2 linked regions of the Homo sapiens genome follow. The protein of the gene in region 1 purifies or fractionates together with the protein of each later gene. This does not show direct contact. Each region holds a gene or a part of one and is shown in the gene's direction. Other genes may lie near its edges. The genes, in order: SELL and EMCN.

The links.
Region 2: the proteins of SELL (region 1) and EMCN purify together in Homo sapiens (affinity purification with western blotting, with the first as the bait; one study listed by BioGRID). This does not show direct contact.

Annotation. Positions count from the first base shown.
Region 1 is NC_000001.11:169,701,350-169,705,175, reverse strand, and holds part of SELL (L-selectin precursor), read left to right. Parts: intron 1-422; coding exon 423-608; intron 609-1,735; coding exon 1,736-1,921; intron 1,922-3,487; coding exon 3,488-3,616; intron 3,617-3,826. UniProt on the Homo sapiens protein: Calcium-dependent lectin that mediates cell adhesion by binding to glycoproteins on neighboring cells. Mediates the adherence of lymphocytes to endothelial cells of high endothelial venules in peripheral lymph nodes.
Region 2 is NC_000004.12:100,511,353-100,515,178, reverse strand, and holds part of EMCN (endomucin isoform 1 precursor), read left to right. Parts: intron 1-3,826. UniProt on the Homo sapiens protein: Endothelial sialomucin, also called endomucin or mucin-like sialoglycoprotein, which interferes with the assembly of focal adhesion complexes and inhibits interaction between cells and the extracellular matrix.

The DNA of each region.
Region 1 (3,826 bases):
TCTTTCTCTGAACATCTTGCTCCCAATACTCTAGTAGACTCAGGGGCTCTGATGTGATAGTTATTTCCCGACTAAGCTGGTCATTCCCAGTTACACCTATTTGGCTTTAAGGATTCTCACTACAGATAATGCTGAAGATAATAATATGAAGACTAGCTAATGTTTACTTAGAATTTCTGATGAGTCAGGCTTTGTTCTAAGGTCCTTGACTTATGCTAATTGAATTACATTTAGTTTCCATATCAATTTGATAAAGATAACACAATTTCATTATTCCTCTTATATAGATGAAGAAACTGAAGTTGGAGGGTTCAAGTAACCTTGTTTAAAGGCACATGGTTATCAAGTGGCAGGGCTAGGATTCAAATCCAGGCGTCAGTTCCTCTTAACTCTTCCCCATACTGTTTCTTTCCCTATTGAAGTGATTCAGTGTGAGCCTTTGGAGGCCCCAGAGCTGGGTACCATGGACTGTACTCACCCTTTGGGAAACTTCAGCTTCAGCTCACAGTGTGCCTTCAGCTGCTCTGAAGGAACAAACTTAACTGGGATTGAAGAAACCACCTGTGGACCATTTGGAAACTGGTCATCTCCAGAACCAACCTGTCAAGGTGAGTAACTTCAGACTAGAGGTTTTGTCATGCAATCCTGGGCTTACAGTCAGAACATTCAGTAGAAGTTTGCTGAGAAGTCAAACTTAGGAGCCTAATTTAACCTAACTTTGTTTAACCTACTGTGATGTTTCTCAAAGGACTTATTCTAACTAAATTTTTTTGAAAAACCTCCCAAACAAAAAGTAAAAACCAAATACCCCTGAAGCCATCTCCCAGTGTGTAACATGACTTATAGCAATACAGCATGGTTATACTGTGTTTTTTATTTTTCTCATTGCCATTGCATAAATAATGTCTTGTTGAACCTCAGTTACATTTTGGTTCTTCTCCTCTCAATAACACCTGTTTTATGTGGTGTCCTACTTAATACCAACCAGTTTCCTTCCCAGGGTAGTGGAGGTCTTTCTTGGTTGTTTTATTTGGCTTATTCTTAAAATCACTTTTACTTTTCCTCATGCATAAACTTTTAGGAGAATAACAACTGAAAAACAAAAACACAATCTCTTGATCTTTTCAAGTTTGAAATAAGGTAGGTTTTTTTTTTTTTTTCATTTTTAACTGCCAACCTTATCTCCATATGGGAGAAAACCAATGTCATCTGAACTTACGAAGTTTTGGTTAACTTTTCTACAAGTATGCTCCTGATGCATTAGTTTAAGTAGTTTAATTCTTAGAAGTGCTATCAAAATCCCTTATTGAAATTATAAAACTGTCAACCCACCTACTGGAATTTACGGAAGTTGGACTTGCTTCAGTGAATTGGGATGTTTTTCAAAATGCTTGGGTAGATATCAGAACAGATGAAACGGCAGAGATTCTCTGAGAATATCCCATAAGAGCCCTTGATGCAGAGGCCATATGGCATGGTACTTCCAGCAGAAGGGGAGGGTCACCTTAGCTAGGGCAGCAGCCTGGAGTAGCTACTCCTCTCCCCACAGCTTTCAATGCTTCCTTGCCTTCATCTCTCATTCACCACCCACCATCATTCTCAAGAAAATAAAGCCTGGAAGCAATATCACAAGTAATGTAGTCAGGCAGCTTTGGCTAAAAATCCTTTGCTCAAGGGAGGGTCTCTACTCAGAAATACTGTTTTGTCTTTTTTTTTTTTTTCTTTTTCATTGAAGTGATTCAGTGTGAGCCTCTATCAGCACCAGATTTGGGGATCATGAACTGTAGCCATCCCCTGGCCAGCTTCAGCTTTACCTCTGCATGTACCTTCATCTGCTCAGAAGGAACTGAGTTAATTGGGAAGAAGAAAACCATTTGTGAATCATCTGGAATCTGGTCAAATCCTAGTCCAATATGTCAAAGTGAGTAAGTTTGTCCTGGAAAACTGAAATCTTAACGATGGAGCTGATGGATGAGCAGATATGAGGAAAGACATACATAAACATTTACATGTTGTTTTGCTAAGAATATGTGGCCTAGAAATAAATTTGTATGCTTAACTCACTGTAAAATCTTTGGCTGGTCTTTCCTCCTCCTTTAATGACAATCATTTCCTTTTTTTGTTCTCACCTCTTGCCATCTTAACTCCTAAAATCTGAACTCACTGATTTACTTTTTACCCATTCTTCTATTCCACTACAATCTAACATCTCTGTTAGCCCATTGAAATGCCTGTAAAAGGTCACTAATGACCACCTACTTCCCCAAATAATGGATACTCCTGAATCATCACTAAGCTAATGCCTCCAAAATCTATCTGTATATGAGAAGAATCATGTCTTGTTCATCTTTGTATACCCTCCACCTGACACAGTGCCTGGCAATAGGTGCTAAAGCAAATGCATGTTAAGCTAGCATGTGAAAGAATAGCTACCTGTGTCTGCTCCTGAGACTATCTGCATGGATGACAAAAGTCTTTAAATGGTAGGATCTACAGAAGCTGTCAGAAATGCTGATCTCTGTGTGCTGCGTGCCCAGGGCCAGGGAGTAGAGTGGATGAGCAGAGAGAGGCAGGGAGGCCTTTAGCAGAGGACTGTGTATTAGGCCTATCAGAGACATTTCCCTTTAAGGCCTAGCTAGTGTTCATTTCCTCCTCATCTTCATCAAGCCAACAGGTACCTTCTGTCTGGAGCTCCTGGGAACTTGAGCCTTCTCTCAATCATATATTTGGGTGTGGGGATCAAATCACCTTGAAAAGGTTCATCAAAGTAATGGGAAGAACTAAGGATAGAATCAGACCCTCTGCCAATATGTAAAAAAGTAGATTCCTTCAAATGTTAGTATCAGGAGACAGATTTTTTTTTATACCAGTATTTTCAAATAGAGGCTCCCAAATGAACTTAGTTTACACTTACAAGAGTATCTCTAAACATGCCCTTTTACTTATTCGTGAAGGAAGTAGAGGGAAGTGGTAACTACTGCATTGGAAAGAAATTAGTGCAGGTCCTTGGCATGTAAAAATCAAGTGCTTATTTTTGCACAACTGCTTTAAAGTAAAAGCATTAATGATTTCCTTTGACTGGTGAATTATCCAGTTCAGATCATTGGCTTTTATTTTTCCTGAAGTTGTATTAGGCTTTTAGCTCTTCTCTGTGTTTCAGAGTTCCAGTCATTGAACAAGTCCATGGAGCTAAATACAACGATGACCATTCTTGCCAACATTTTTAGGTGCATTTTCAGGAACTCTATGAACCACAAATCTGGGCATTGAGATTCTGTAGGCATTAGACTAGCAAGGCTGGTCCAGTCTTTGCCTATGCTGTAGACTCATCAGGGGCCTTCCCATGCCAGTTTCCTCATCTGTCAAATGGCATCAAATGGGCTACTACTGGGAGATGTAAGGAGGAAAAAAGTCAAATATCATGAGATAGACTAAGGAAATAATGCTGGTGGTCTCATGCTATGTGCCTTACTGATTTCTCTTTCAGAATTGGACAAAAGTTTCTCAATGATTAAGGAGGGTGATTATAACCCCCTCTTCATTCCAGTGGCAGTCATGGTTACTGCATTCTCTGGGTTGGCATTTATCATTTGGCTGGCAAGGAGATTAAAAAAAGGTATGTGAGTTTAACTTCACATGAAAAGAACACAACTTTAAAGTGAAAAAGAAAAAAAAAAGAAACCCACAGGAAATTAAATGTGATAGATTCAACACAAGCAGGATGCCAAGCTTTACATTCTAGAGCCATCAGTCCCTGGAGACATGTAAATCAGCCCAGGACACACCTTCATTAAAACAGGTTGGCTGATTTTCGCTTTTCATCTGA
Region 2 (3,826 bases), on another chromosome or scaffold:
TTGCTTTTTGAAATTTGCCTTAACTTGGGAAATATTAAAATGTTGTAGGCATTCTCAGACAGGGACAAACACCATTTTCTTTATTGGTATATGAAGAAGGATTTAATTGCTTGGAGAAATTCCTTTGTTAGTGATTGAACATTCAATTTCATGAAAAAGAAAGATTAAACACACTATCAGCAGACTCCATGCTAAATATCGTAAGTTTATAGAACTTAATAAAAGTTAACCCTCACCGTAGAAGTGGGGGAGAGAGGAAGATGAGGGAAGTTATTATCAATTTGGCTATATTGTAGGCTTTAAGAGGTAAATAAAGAATGACATAGAAAATTTACAACTAGCCTGGTTTTGGATGTAAGGACATCTGAAACGGCTACATATAAAAGTGGAAATTATTATAAGCTTTGAAGCTTGAAAATCAAGAGGTTCTAGAGGAAGGGAATTTATTGAGTAGATACATTGAAACATTGGTATATTCTAGTCTAGAAACATAAAGAGGTCACAATTTGGGCATAGTTAAGTACTGAGAAATAAGATTGGAATATAGCCTCAGGAGATATTGAATACCAGGATGAGAAATATTGACTCATATAGTTAATTAGTTTGAGTCTGTAAATGGTTTGAGTATGGGAATTATATGATCATGGCTATAAAATGGGAAGACTAATCTGTCAGCAGAATATAGATTAGACTACTGGAGTCAAGAGAAATAAAAGGTAAGGAAACTAGGTCAACTGTCATTGCAAGTCTGAGAGTGTGTCAATAAAATGAAAAGAAGGGTCTAGGAAGAGCTTTAAGGAAGTAGAAAGTGTGTGATTTGACATATCATTGACTGGCAGTGAAGGAGAATGTGACTGAAATGCAGAGACAGAGTTTTTTTTAATACCAGAAATAGGAAAATGGCTTGGGAGCAGAGATTAGGAAAGATATGAGGAGACGGTTTAGTGAGAAAAATGGTATTTGGTTTTGGACATGGTGATTTTGTAATCCTGATATTTATGTAGAGATGTTCAATGGTAAATTAAAAGTGTCTGATGCGTAGTCGGTATGCCCCTGGAGCCAGAGGTGATGTTGAGAGGTGAATGTTCTTTAGTCCTGAATCCAAATATTTCTTAATCTTGCCCATTGTAACATTAATAACATAGAGAAGCAATTTATCCTTCTTCTGGATGCCCGTATATCTAACTCTCCTAAGGTACTTATTTCCAATTCTGTCATAGTTATTTGCATGAATGTCTTATTTCTCTACAAGATTATAAGTGCCTTGAAAGTAAGGGCTATATTTGTTACAGATTGCTCAGCAACAGTTCTGAACACATAATAAGGACATAGTTGTCTGAATGAATGGATAATTGAATGAAATAGTTGCCTTCTTATTATTTTCATATTTTAATTTCTTCCTATGACAATCACCTAATAGTTTACTATCTTGTCCTTATGAAAAAGTTATGGACAAGTATGAATCAGAGAACATAATATAGAAAAAAGTCGATTATTTTGATTTCAGTTATGAAAGTGAGCACCAAATATAAGGGAAAGGGATTCTTATCAAAGGTTAGCCAGCTCTCAAACTATAACCACTTTGGGGAAGAATATCTAAACAGAACCAGCTCTACTTATTTTTGGGTATCAAATACTCAATGTGATACATTCCTATAGTTAAAAGTATTCAAGGAGCTACCTTATTCTCAACCAACTTCTCAAAAATACAAAATGGCTTTTTTACAAGTGAAATTTACAGAAATAGAAGTTGGAGGAAAGTTAAAAAAAATCATACATCTTTATGCGTCATTACAGGTAACGTGAGTTGCTTCAGAGTAGATAATTTTGCTAAGTACTTCTGTTGAGCTTAATCCACACCAGTATCTCTTACCTGAAATGGGTAGTCTATTGTAGGAAGACTAAACCAATATAGAACAAATCCAAATGGAAAAGTATTTAGTCTGCAAACCATTTCTTTGCATTCTTTCTCCACTGCTGATTTTTAATAATCCCCACCTAAAAGTAGAAGTGATCATTCTAGAACTCCTACTTTCAAAAGATTTATAACAGTTGTCAGAAACAAATTCTCTGGCAATTTTATCTTGAAAATTGTAGTTATCCAGACAACTAAGAAAAAAATGAATATTTAAGGGTTTCACAAAGCTTTGAATTTACTAGACAACTGCCCATCCTTTCCTTTTCATTGGTGAAGTTACATTTCAAGCTGCAGCCAAATATTTTAACTTGTGAATAATTATCTAATTCAAGTTACTCACATTCTTTTTTTCTTAGTAATCACTTTCCAACTTCCTCTTTGTCTTTAAGAACAACATGAGATGCACGTTTCTAAATACTGAATGTCAGAGTAGGAATTTTTTTTTTTTTTTTTTGAGATGGAGTTTTGCTCTTGTTGCCCAGGCTGGAGTGCAACGGTATGATATTGGCTCACTGCAACTTCCGCATCCCGGGTTCAAGCGATTCTCCTGCCTCAGCCTCCCAAGTAGCTGGGATTACAGACACCCACCACCATGCCCAGCTAAATTTTTTTATTTTTAGTAGAGACAGGGTTTTACCATGCTGGCCAGACTGGTTGCGAACTCCTGACCTCAGGTGATCCACCTGCCTCGGTCTCCCAAAATGCTGGGATTACAGGCATGAGCCACCATGCCCAGCTCAGAATAGGAATTTAAGTAACTTTCAATTCCTGTGTACTGAATCCTTTCCAGCTACTGAATTCCTATCCATTATAGGTCTGTTAGCTTAGGCTAACAGTACCTTTTGACTGATAGAAGCAGCTCTCTCAGTTAGCAAACAAGATCCTTTTTGTACCATTGCACACCATGGGAAACATTAGTGGTGTCAATTACATCTAGAAAGGGCACTATATGGTTCCCAAATTTGGGGCAACCATAAGAAAAATAGATTTTTAAAACTTGAATAGAGGTTTCATATCCTATAGAATGATATATGTAGAGATAATCATAATTAGTCCCAAAGTAGAAGAAGTCACCGTATGAGCATTAGATTCCTGTTGTGTCTTTCCCTACATCTTCTCTGGCCACGTTTACTCCAGCCATTGCTATGGCAACCAGCTACGCACGGGTGTAACCTGACAGCCGCTTGCCTCACTTTAATGCATATATCCTGCTTTCTTTCTGGTGCTATTCTGTTATAAAGGTGCATTTCAGAATCTGGCATTATCAGATGCCTGAACTAGAAGTGCAGGAGCATTAGCATTCTATGAGACAGCTCCTGACAAAAGAGGGAATGGAGTCACTGAATACATAAATGCTTTTCTCTTATATTCCTGCTCCAGTTTCATTGTTTTAGTCCTTTTCTCCTCTTCCTATTTTTTTTTTTATAAACTGTCTGAACAGAAGCCCTTGTTTCAGGCTCTGCTATTTAGGAAAACCCAGGATTTATTATTTTTCTTGATGAGAACATTTTAGTTTAGATGGTAGTGTATATCTAAGTAAAGATTAGTTTTGGTTTCTCTGACACTCTCATTAATATGTACTACCCTTCTTCCTTTTCATTTCAAAGAAAATGAAATATCTTTGATCAATCTTTTGTTACATAAGCTTAACAATATTCTAAACAGATTCTGTTCTAAGGCAATTATTTGCCTGTTTGCAGTAATGAATTATACTGTGAGGTTAGTAGTAAAAAATGTTGATGTCATTGATTTTATTCTTTCTGTACTTCTCAACTGAAATGTGAACTGTTTTTTTAAATCCATTGAATCAGTCATACTCTAGCTGAAACCTGTATTAGTTGTGTCAAAGACTAGAGAATGGAGATCACAGTTGGGAACGGTCCAAGTTAACCCAAAGAAGTATTGTCA